Regions from separate parts of the Homo sapiens genome. Here all the other regions are linked to region 1. The links come from fine-mapping of genetic effects on gene expression. A gene starts in region 1. Each other region holds a variant in brackets. All regions are shown on one strand. Distances are between the middles of the regions.

Region 1 (2,691 bases):
CGACAAAAGCAAGTTTGTACTCACTCAACTAGAAGAAAACTTTGAAGGGGAAAAGAATTAGAGGTAGATGTTAAGAATGAAAACCTCTCTCAAATGCAGTTCTAAATCTTTTATTTTACAGACCCTAAAGCCACCCCAAAAGTGATAAGCAAGCTTCCGAAAAAGATGTCTGAAGAATACAAATCCTCCACCGTATCCTGTCCGTTGCATCCACTCCCACCTGCTACCACTTCTATCCACTTTACCGATATGGTCACGATGAGCGCTACAAAATTGCTGCCAAATAAGTAAATATGAGCGCAACACAAAGCCAGTTGGTGGGGACCAAAAAGTACCTTTAGAGGCACTCAGCCCCTTCGTAAAAGTCAGCATGTGTTTAGCTCTTTAAAACATCTCGCCTTACCAAACTCTACGAAGAATGAGAATTAAGACCGTCCTCTAACCTAACCCATGCGGATATGAAAAGTGGAAGGAGATTTCAAGACAGGTTTATACTAACTAATCCATTAGCCCAAGGCAGATCAGAGCTGTCAACAAATCAGGACCAAATCAGAAAGAACAAAGTTGCAAATGTGAGAGGGTGTGTATGCACTGGTGCGGGGGAAGAGGATGGGTGGGAGGACAATTTTTAAAATGCAATCATTGAAAACGGGAGAATCCAAGTCCTCTGTCTCCCAGCCGGCCTCCAAACCTCGATTCCACGGGCAGTGCCGGGAATGGACCTAATCCCAGGATCGCAGGGATTTGGGGGCGGGGTGGGGCTGCCTCCCGCACCCGCGTGCCTGAGCGCCCAGCCCCCGCGATGAGGACGCGCTCGGGACACTCACGTTTTCTGCACCGGCTTCCGCCGCTTGCGACTGGCGTAGGTGATGTTGGCGCTGCTGCTGTTCATGGTGCCCAGCCGACGGCGGCGGCTACTCCCCGGGCACTGGCGGCCGGGTCCCCGGAACCCGGTGTAGGCTGGGACCACTGCGGCGGCCGGCGCCGGGTTCCGCGAAGCCGCGCCCGCTCCACCTGCGTCCTCTCGGGACAGTGGCGTGGGCGCCGCGCCTCAACGCCTCGGCTCACGCAGGCTTCCGCAGCCCGCGCCAGTACAGGTGAGCTGCCTGGGCCTGGCGCAGTGAGGGTGGGCGAGGGGCGGAGACCCGCGAGCAAGGCGGCGCAGGTGCCGTCTACACCGGCGGAGGCGGCGCGGCAATGCCCGCAGGTGAGGCGGCCCGGGCGGAGGAGGAGCCTGGGCCGTCTATTTAGAATCCTGGCCTGGGTCGCTCACGGTGGCGCCGCGCCCCGTGACCGTCGCCGCGGCCCCTTGGGTGAGGGAGGTGCCGCCGCGCTGCTCCCGGGACTTCCTAAATCCAGGGTGCTTCCCGCCTGCGGAGCTCGGGCGCGGGCCACCAGTCCCGGCTGCTCCCAGCTTCCGTTCGGCTACACGGCTGCCCCTGTTCTGAGCTGGCGGTCCGGGGCACGCTCTCGGAACAGAGCGTCGACGGGACTCCCCAGCCACTGCCTCCCGCCGCCGCGCGCACCGGCTGAATAGCAGGAGCACCCCCGACCCCTCACCGGCCCCGCCCCGCCCAGATCCCGCGTAGCCCCGCCCCGTCCTGCTTGCCCCCGCCCATCTGGATTCCATTCCGTCTTCCTTGAGGGCCCCACCCTCATCCCGGCACGTGATGACGTAGGACGTAAGGACGCCCCCCCCCGCCGGTAGCCATCTTCGTGCATAGGCAAACTTATTGTAGCTAGACTGTACAAAGTATATCAAGATATGCCAAATATTGAGCTTAACTTCACCTGTTTGAGAGACGGTGGGTCAGCTAACTTGTGGCTAAGAATTACAATTAACTGGTAGACAACTGGTAGACAACCAATGGGACTGTATATTTTCCTAGTTGGGAAGGCTTCAGAAGGCCAGATTTGAGTTGAGACTTGAAGGCTAGGAGTTTCCTTGACCTTTTTTGGTGTGCGGGGGAAGTCTTTACAATAGACAGGAATATAGATAATAAGGGGACTATTATGTATTGTGTCATGGAGGACCATGTGGAAAAATATTGGGAGTAATTAACAATATTGAATACTGTTGAGAAATTCAAATTAGTTGAGAACTGAAAATGTCATTCTTGTTTTCTCAATGTGTAGTCACTGATGACTTTCGTGAATGCAGTGTTGGGGTAATGGGCCTGCAAATAACATTGAAGTGGGTACAGGATTGAGCTGAAGATAACAAAATGGCATCCTCAAGCAGGCAATTTTTCTTCCAAGTTTAGCTGTGGATGAGAGACACATCAGATTGTATGTAGGGGGAGTGAAGGGTTAAATGAGGGTTTTCTAGTTTTGGTTTAGTTCTTTAATGGGCGATACTGAGCGGCTTAGAGGGGGTAGAGATAAACTATGTAGGGAACCTGAGGGAAGAGTGAAGGAATGATAGATATTAAGATACCGAAAGCAGGAGGGAATGAGTGCCAAAGCATAAATGGGAGATTAGGACTAATAGATTAGATACTAACAGAAACAGCACTTACAGTGCTTTGCTATTCAGAGTACTCCACAGCTTCTTTTGAGAGTTACAGGAAATGCAGACTCTTTGGGTGTCCTTATTAAATCAGAACCCGAAGTTCACAGGAACTCCCAGGTGATTCAAATGTACATAAAGTTGGAGGAGCAGTTCTCTACCATAGCTGGAGGAAAGAAGGA
Region 2 (2,691 bases), 380 kb before region 1:
GAGGGGGTGTGCAAACATTGCCTGAGTTAGGGTCGTTTGTGTGAGGTCCAGGAGGTAGAAGCAAGGTAAGGCGGTGCAGTTGAAGCATGAATTCCTAGGGACAGCCGAAGTGCTATGTCCTAGAGCACAGCAAAATCAGAAATCCATAGGAATAGCCAGACATTGAAGATAGTAGCTAGGAATCAGATATAAAACAAATTAGAAAAATTGTGATGAGATTTGCTTGCCAGCAATCAGAGCTCATGGCATGTGTTTAGCCTAGGGCCCTCTCAAGGTACCAAGCATGGATGAAGGGCCAGCAATCTCCTTGGGGACATTACCAGCATCTGGAATCCTTTGGCTACCCAGGTTTACTGAATTTCCTCCCTGGTCATTCATCCCGTGAGCTTCTATGCTTGGCCTGCTGCGTTTCACTGTCTCTGTCAACCTCAGGCAGCTGCTTTTCTTTCCTTTCCAGTTGTCCCTTTACTGAATATTTTCCAAATCTACGTTTCAGTTCTTGGTCTCGAGTGCATAGTAGTGCAATTCTTCAATTTTTTGATGTCCCGAACCTTGGAAAACAGATTTAGGTCAGCCACAAAATACAATAAAATGATGTTTACATTGGTTTCTCACATTTTTTAATCAACATTGCCACCTAGTGGTAAAATAATCCTTAAAACTGTGCACAATTATTTTCATTTGGGTTTGGATATTTGATTCAATGTCAAGGATCTTCAAATGGTAAAATTTTGAGCAAGAAGAGACCACAATGATTATTCATTTAAATGTATTGTTTTACACCTAAAGAAATTGAGGCTTAGGGAAAGTCATATGGTAACCAGTGTCTTTTAGGCTCATTAATTATTGCGCTAATACGGTAGGGTCCTCATTCACAGACTATCACTATTTTCCCCCCAGAAATTCTTAATTATTTCCTCTTGAGGTTTTGGTTGATCACTCAGTTTTTCTCCCTTAAGTTTTAAGATGTTCTTACTCAATTTAGCTATTTCCTGGTGGTAAGTAAAAAACAAAACGAAACAAAAACAAACAACAAAAATCAGTTTCAAATGAAGCAAGGTTGTGTATTACATTCTCTCTTTTTGACACATTTGTTTTGTCTTTTTCTCCCAAGTCTTTCTCAAGATGTGTCAATCCATGAGCATGTCTTCCTTTCTTGTGTACATTTAAATACAGGAAAAATATTCTAATACATCCTGTGTTCCATCCAGTCCAGCAGTATTTACACAGTTTTGGGCAGGTCTAGGGTAGAACCAGAGATTCTGAATTCACACCAAGCTTCCCAAAGATGACAAAACTCCTGTTTTGGGCTCACACTTTAAATTGTAAGGCTTTATAGAACAATGACTACATCCTTGAGAACTCAAAAT[C/A]TTTCTTCAGAATGGATGAGTAAACCGTGTGTTCTGTTTGGGCAAATGAGGAGCACAAGGGGAAATTCCTTTGCCTTAAGCAACGTCTCCGCTGAAGTGGCTAATTCCCTTTTTGGCTGCCATGGGGGTCATGTGCCCTGTGAAACTGCTGCTGCTTGCACTGCTTAACGAGACAAGGTCAGGGAATTTCCCTGCACTCTGTGATGACCATTGACCCTCTCCAGGGGTCCGTGATAACCGGGTCTGGAGAATGCCCTCCCAGGACATTCCAGGAGTGATCCTAGGCTAGGCAGTTGTATTAAAGTTCTAAATTTGGTTGCACATTGGGATCACCTGGAAAGCTTAAAAACATACTAATGTCTGGGTCCTGTCCCTGGATACCAGGGTTTTCAAAGCTCCCCAGGTAATTCCAATGAGTAGCAAGCCTGAGAACCACTGGAAACCTAAAGGCACGTAATGGGCCAAAGGACACCAGCTTGTCCCTCCCCTCCTCTCCTTTCTCCTTGTCACCAGTTTATTCTGAAACAAAGACTTCAGGATGCTGCTGGAAAGGGAATTCAGCTCCTAGCAGCTCTGGCTTTATTTACCCTCTCAGGCCCCTCCTCCCTCCTGCGCCCCAACTGGATGTGCATACTTTTTGAGGCAAGTCCAGTCCCTTCCCAAAGTTCCTAGGGTGGCCTTCATAATGCATTTTATTATGTCACACCCACCTGCTCTGCTAGGCCAGCCGAGGTCATGTGATAAGGCTGCTGCATCCCAAGGAAAGGGTTTCGGCTTTTACAAGGACAAGTGCTGGATCAGCCTGATCTCCTGGGAGTTATGAATCAGATGGTCTGAATGTCCTTGCGAGACTTGTGGAAAGAGAAATGTTATCCAGGTTTTTCCTTCAGAACTTTTCATAGGCGATCCTGGGAGCTCTGACCTAGAACTGAAATGACTTTTGATTTTGAAAATAATTAGAATTAATTTTGTAAGGCTGCTTCTCTCTCTCTCTCTACATATATATATGCTTCTAAATATATATATTTGTAAAATACAGTAATCTATGGGCTAGAAACTGTGATAAGAAGCTATAATAGAAATTTACAGTTAAAGAAATGATGGATAATGTGGGATTGTGGTTAAAGATCAGAAGAAAAATGCTTTGGTTCTCCAATCTTGACTTCTTGCATTAGGTATTTTGCTGGGGGAAGAGAGGGAGGGAGACAGAGAGAGAGAGAAAACTATATATATATATATGTGTTTAACAGGACATCTTTCTCTTGACTCTTCTGTGGTTTTGGCCCTGTTGTTAATCAAACCTTTTCCTTGAAACTGTTTT
Region 3 (2,691 bases), 150 kb after region 1:
TTTTCACCATCAAATATGATGACAGCTATGGACTTTTTCATAGATTTTATGATTAAGAAAGGTCCTTTCTCTTAGTTTGTTGCACACTTGTACATGAAAGGATATTTTGTTTGTCAAATGCTTCTTATTGATCAATTGACATGTGATTTTTGTAATATATTCTATTACATTGATTTATTTTGGGGTGTTAAACGAACCATGGACTCCTGAATAAATCTCACTTGGTCTTGATGTGTAATCCTTTTGTGTATGTGTTGCTACATTCATTTTGATAGTGTTTTGTTAATGATTTTGCACCTATATTTTAGGAGATATTGATTTGTCACTTTCACTTTCTTTTCTCATGATGCCTTTTCAGGTTTTGTATTAGGGTAATATTGGCCTCATAGACAAAATTGGAAAACATCTTCTGTTTCTTGGAGAGTTTGTTGGGGATTGGCATTAATTCACTTTTAAACGTTTGGTAAAATTCACCAGTGAAGTCATTTTTGCCTGTACTTTTCTTTGTGGACAGGTTTTCAATTACTAATTCAATCTATTTCTTATTATAGGTAGATTCAGATTTTCAGTTTCTTGAGTTAGATTCAGTAGTTTGTGTCCTTCTAGGAACTTGTCCATTTCATCTATGTTAACTCATTTGTTAGCATTCAATTGCTCAGAGTATTCCCTTATAATTATTTTTAAAAATTGCTTTAAGGTGGTAGTGACATCCTATCTTTTCTTCTTGATTTTGGTAATTTGGTTTCTAGAGCTAAGTTAGCTCTTATAAGAAATGGGAAACACTGTAGTTGATTCATCATTGAGGAGTCTGACATCAGGTCAAAATCTTATGTGTCATCTCTCAGAGCTGACTATAGACAATTACAAAGATGTTGAAAGTAAACGTGGTAAAATTACAAAGATGTTGAAAGTAATCATGCCAAAACATGGCATGGTCCACATGGCAAAAAATGGCGGGGGTGGGGGGCGCCTTTTGAGAAACCTTTCTTATTACATTCCATCAGCTGTTTTTCATTTATTAAGATTTTGTTGAACAGATAGTACAGAGAGCTCCTATATATTCCATCACTTCTTACCTCCCCAGTTTCTCCTATTATTAACATCTTGCATTAGTGTAGCACATTTGTTACAACTGATGTTACAATCAGTGGAACAATATTGATACATTATTAACTATGGCTAAAATCCAAAGACTCAGTAATACCAATACTGGTGAGGATTTGAAGTCCATAGTTTGCTTTAGGGTTCATTCTTTGTGCTGTACAGTTGTATGTGTTTTGACTAATGTGAAATGCCACGTATCTACCATTATAATATCACATAGAATAGTTCCAATGCCCTAAGAAATCTCCTGTGCTATAACTGTCATCCCTCCCCCTGAATTTCTGAAAAACACTAATCTTTTCTCTGTCTCTATATATAGTTTTGCATTTCTTACAATGTCATGTAGTTGGGAAGATACAGTATATAGCCTTTTTATACTGGCTTTTTTCACTTAACGATATGCATTTAAGTTTCCTTCATGTCTTTCATAGCTTAATAGCTCATTTCTTTTTATCTCTAGATAATACTTATCTTAGTTCATCTTGTGCTCTTGTAACAAAATACCACAGACTGGGTAATTTATAGAGAACTGAAACTTATTTCCTCACAATTTCAGAGACTGGAAA[G/C]TCCTAGATTAAGGGGCTGACATCTGGTGGCCTTGTTGCCAAGTCATCCCATGGCAGAAAGCAGAGGGCAGAGAGAGGGCAAGAGAGAGACGCAAGGGGGTTGAACTCATCCTTTTACAAGGAATCCATGCATGCCGGCAGAGCTCTCATGGCCGTATCACCTCTTACAAGTCCCATCTCTTAATATTGTTACAATGGCAATTAAATTTCAACATGAGTTTGGGAGGGGACAAACATTCAAGTTATAACAATATTTCGTTGTATAGATAGGCCACATTTATCTGCTCACCTATTGAATGACATGTTGGCTGCTTCCAGTTTTTGGCAATTGTAAATGAAGCTGCTATGAACATTCACATGCAGATTTTTGTGTAGACATAACTTCAACTCATTCATTGGTTTATTTATTTATTTTTTTGAGACAGGGTCTTGCTCTGTCACCCAGGCTGGAGTGCAGCAGCGTGATCACCGTTCACTGCAGCCTCGACCTCCCTGGCCTTAACAATCCTCCCACTTCAGCCTCCTGAGTAGCTAGGACTGCAGACACATGACAGCAAGCCTGTCTAACTTTTTTTATTTTTTTTGTAGAGACTGAATCTTGCCATATTGCCTATGCTGGGCTCAAACTCTTGGACTCCAGCAGTCCTCCTGCCTAGGCTTCCCAAAGTGCTGGGATTACAGGCATGAACCACTGTGCCCAGGCTTCAACTCATTTGAGTAGATACACAGGAGTGTGGTTGCTGGATCAAATGGTGGGACTGTTTACCTTGATTAAAAAAAACTGCCTGTCTATGCCATTTTGCATTCCTACCAGTAATAGGAATTACAGTCCCTGTTTACTATATATCCTCACCAGCATTACCTGGTGTTATCAGATTTTTGGATTTTAGCCATTCTAATACATATATAGCCATATCTTGTTTTTATTTGAAATTTCATGAAATAATTTTGAACAACTTTTCATATATTTATTTGAGATATACCTTTTTATCTTCTTTTGTGAGGTGGTTGTTTAGGTCTT
Region 4 (2,691 bases), 180 kb after region 1:
ATATATCTGCATTCATAACTTTCTAACTCATGCTGTTTATTATTATTTTCATGCACAAATTATTTCATCAGTCTTTGCCACCACATACTATTATGTCAGACACGTTTCCCAAAATAGCTCTGTTCTTGAAGGGTAAAAAAGTAAAACAAGCATTTACTTTTAATATACCTGCAGGCCTTCACCTGTTGCACTATACATGGTTTCTTTCATGTTTGGCCTCCTTACTTCTATAGCAGGTTCTTGTCTTGCTAGAAAGGGCTAGAAATAATTAACGTTTGTTTTATCATTATTTTCCTAGAAATTATTATTTTGATAGATAATAATCATAATTTTGGTAGAAAACACCCTTCATGACTTACGCTTTATGCGTTTCTCATTTGTAGTAAACGCATGTATGTTTTCCTGAATTACTCTATATTGCTCTAGATAATCTTAGAATTTTCTTTTTTATTTTATTTTACTTAATTTTTTGGCACACTGTCTTCTGAAATGAATTACTTTAGCATATTTAAACATAAACTGAGAGAGTCCTGGTTGGTTTTTGTTTTTGTTTTCTAAAACAAATTTGCTTTTCTATAGGGGTTTCCCCAGGAGTTGTGGTATATTTCAAATGCCCTAGATAACCTTAGGGATTGTCCAACCTCACAAGTAGGCTTGATACTCAGAAATCAGAATTTTAAATTGTGTGTGCAATCTTTTTTCTTGCTTTCCTATATCATCCGGAATGTTCAGGGATTTTTTAGATATTTAATTTTAGAAACTACTTTTGGTCTAATTAAAGGAATATTATCTCTTTTCTCACTTCTTTACGTGCCTGAATCTATTATATAGTATTTCCTCATATATGTCATCTTGAGCATCCTATACTTTAAAAAATATTTACGTAAGCACTATTGTGGAAATAGTAAACACATAAAGAGGAGGAAAGAAAAGGAGGTAAGTAAATGGTAAAAGTGTTTGAAGCAAAGATTAACCGAATGATTTTGGCTCTGTGAATTGAGCCACAGAGTTTCTCTTATTTCTCCTCACACATTCCATTCCAGCCATACACACTCATCAGCATTTCCCAAACTCCGTGGCCCTTCATACCTCTCTATTGCTAAACATGCAGGATATGA[T/C]GTCGGGAATGACCTTCCCCTTTTTTCTGCTGAAATCTTACTTTCAGCTCAAATGTTATTTTCTATTTCTCAAATTACAGTTCCTGTTTCGAGTGTGTGGTTCTTTTCATGTCCTTTTAAATTGCCATTTACATGTCTATGTCTCCCACTAAGTTCCACAGGGACTGGGCTCATGTTTTACCCATTTCTGTAACCTTAGTGCCAGACAAATCTTTGTTCAATTCATGTATAATTAATGACTAAATTTATGCCTTTGAATAAGTTACTTAGTCTATCGGTGCTTTCTGCTTTGTAAAATGGAACTAATAATAGTACCTAACTTAAGGGAGGGTTTTGAGAATTACATAAAATAATTCATACAGAACATAATGCCTGACACATAATTCATGTTCAGTAAATATTTAGTTGTTGTTATGTACATATTTTTTAATACTGCATTTAAACACCAAAATTCTACAATTATTAATAGTGGTCATGAAAAAGGGTGTTTCATTGTCTTTGTTTTTGGATAAAAGGCCATTTGTCAGATGGCTGAAATACCAGTGTTAAATAAATAGATGAGTTTGCCACCACAGTGAAATTTCTCTCTATAGAAATGCCGCATGAAGGGTCTTCTCTGACTGTAATAGAAAAGCCAGTCTACAATTTGATGTCGTGAGGTGCTTACAGGGAAGAAATATTCCAAACAACTGCTAATTCCTGGCCAACAGTGTAAGCTCTATCTGATTTTGGGATATCATACATCTTTCTCTGAAGCTGTTTATCAATTCTCTTTCATCATATAAATTATCATATATATATTATGATTTAATTTTTTTCATATGAGAAAATTCGGAGTAGATTAATTCACCAACATAAGACAGATGCAAATTTTAGCCATTGGTTGAAAGCAGCAAATTTCACTGTCTATGGAGTTTTATGTATTTTCTAAAAAATAGATGTGTTTAGATAAATATTAAATGCCATATCACACATACCATACAGAGACTTTTTATATTGAAATATTCATTATCTTGACAGTAATAATATTCCATAAGTCTTATTTTGTTACATAAATATCTCATATTCCATCTTTCTTTTTATTTCAGTACAGCTCACCAAGAACAGTATAAACAAAGGTATTTCTTAGATTTATTTATTTTGGAAGATTCCAGTGAGGAAACATATTTTACTATATATTTATATAACTCTTAGCATTAGTTACCAGACTTTCCAAAATGAACACTTTTATTGAAAGCATACTTCTGACCAACTTCATTTAAAAAATAGAATTTGAAAGGTTTGGCTTTCTAGGGTCTTGCAACCTACATGATCACTCACTTCTTACATTATGCAGGCAAATTATTTTGTAACTCAGGTATTATTTTAACAACTGTAGCAAATTAACCAACTGCAATCTATTTATGTTCAGTAAATTTTTGCCAAACCATTCTATTTAAACATAGAGATTTCTTAATAACATGCCAGGAGATACAATGAGTCAAAAGAGGGCAGGGAAAGTGAGTACTCATTACTATAAAGTTTTCTAATTTGTAGCCTTCGCCAAAATTCTTCATTATGGAGACCATACTAT

Alleles and levels. Alleles are on the strand shown, and positions count from the first base shown. SD is a standard deviation of normalised expression in the study named. Not every link is listed here.
For the expression in fibroblasts of the gene that starts at base 1,505 in region 1, allele A in region 2 goes with a higher level than allele C (moderate effect, 0.43 SD a copy in GTEx).

The links. PIP is the estimated chance that this variant, and not a neighbour inherited with it, causes the effect.
Region 2: its variant is fine-mapped to the expression of AHR in fibroblasts (GTEx, PIP 0.93).
Region 3: its variant is fine-mapped to the expression of AHR in whole blood (TOPMed, PIP 0.99).
Region 4: its variant is fine-mapped to the expression of AHR in whole blood (TOPMed, PIP above 0.99). The same link has a PIP of 0.9 or more in blood mononuclear cells.

What each region holds. Positions count from the first base shown.
Region 1 is chr7:17,297,466-17,300,156 of GRCh38, reverse strand. AHR (aryl hydrocarbon receptor) reads right to left here and starts at 1,505. Exons shown (of 11, transcript NM_001621.5): 1 at 828-1,505. The coding sequence starts at 892. It overlaps LOC101927609 (a long non-coding RNA gene), which reads left to right and starts at 837. Exons shown (of 12, transcript XR_007060234.1): 1 at 837-1,097. RefSeq lists silencers at 831-880, 921-1,030, 1,081-1,230.
Region 2 is chr7:17,679,012-17,681,702 of GRCh38, reverse strand. No RefSeq gene overlaps it. Among named protein-coding and RNA genes, the nearest start is that of LINC02889, 120 kb to the right of the region's middle. The variant C/A (reference allele first, on the strand shown) is at 1,371.
Region 3 is chr7:17,151,911-17,154,601 of GRCh38, reverse strand. The region is part of intron 1 of LOC107986772 (a long non-coding RNA gene); the gene reads right to left. The region is part of intron 7 of LOC101927609 (a long non-coding RNA gene); the gene reads left to right. Among named protein-coding and RNA genes, the nearest start is that of AHR, 150 kb to the left of the region's middle. The variant G/C (reference allele first, on the strand shown) is at 1,671.
Region 4 is chr7:17,121,686-17,124,376 of GRCh38, reverse strand. All of the region lies in intron 1 of LOC107986772 (a long non-coding RNA gene), which reads right to left. Among named protein-coding and RNA genes, the nearest start is that of AHR, 180 kb to the left of the region's middle. The variant T/C (reference allele first, on the strand shown) is at 1,119.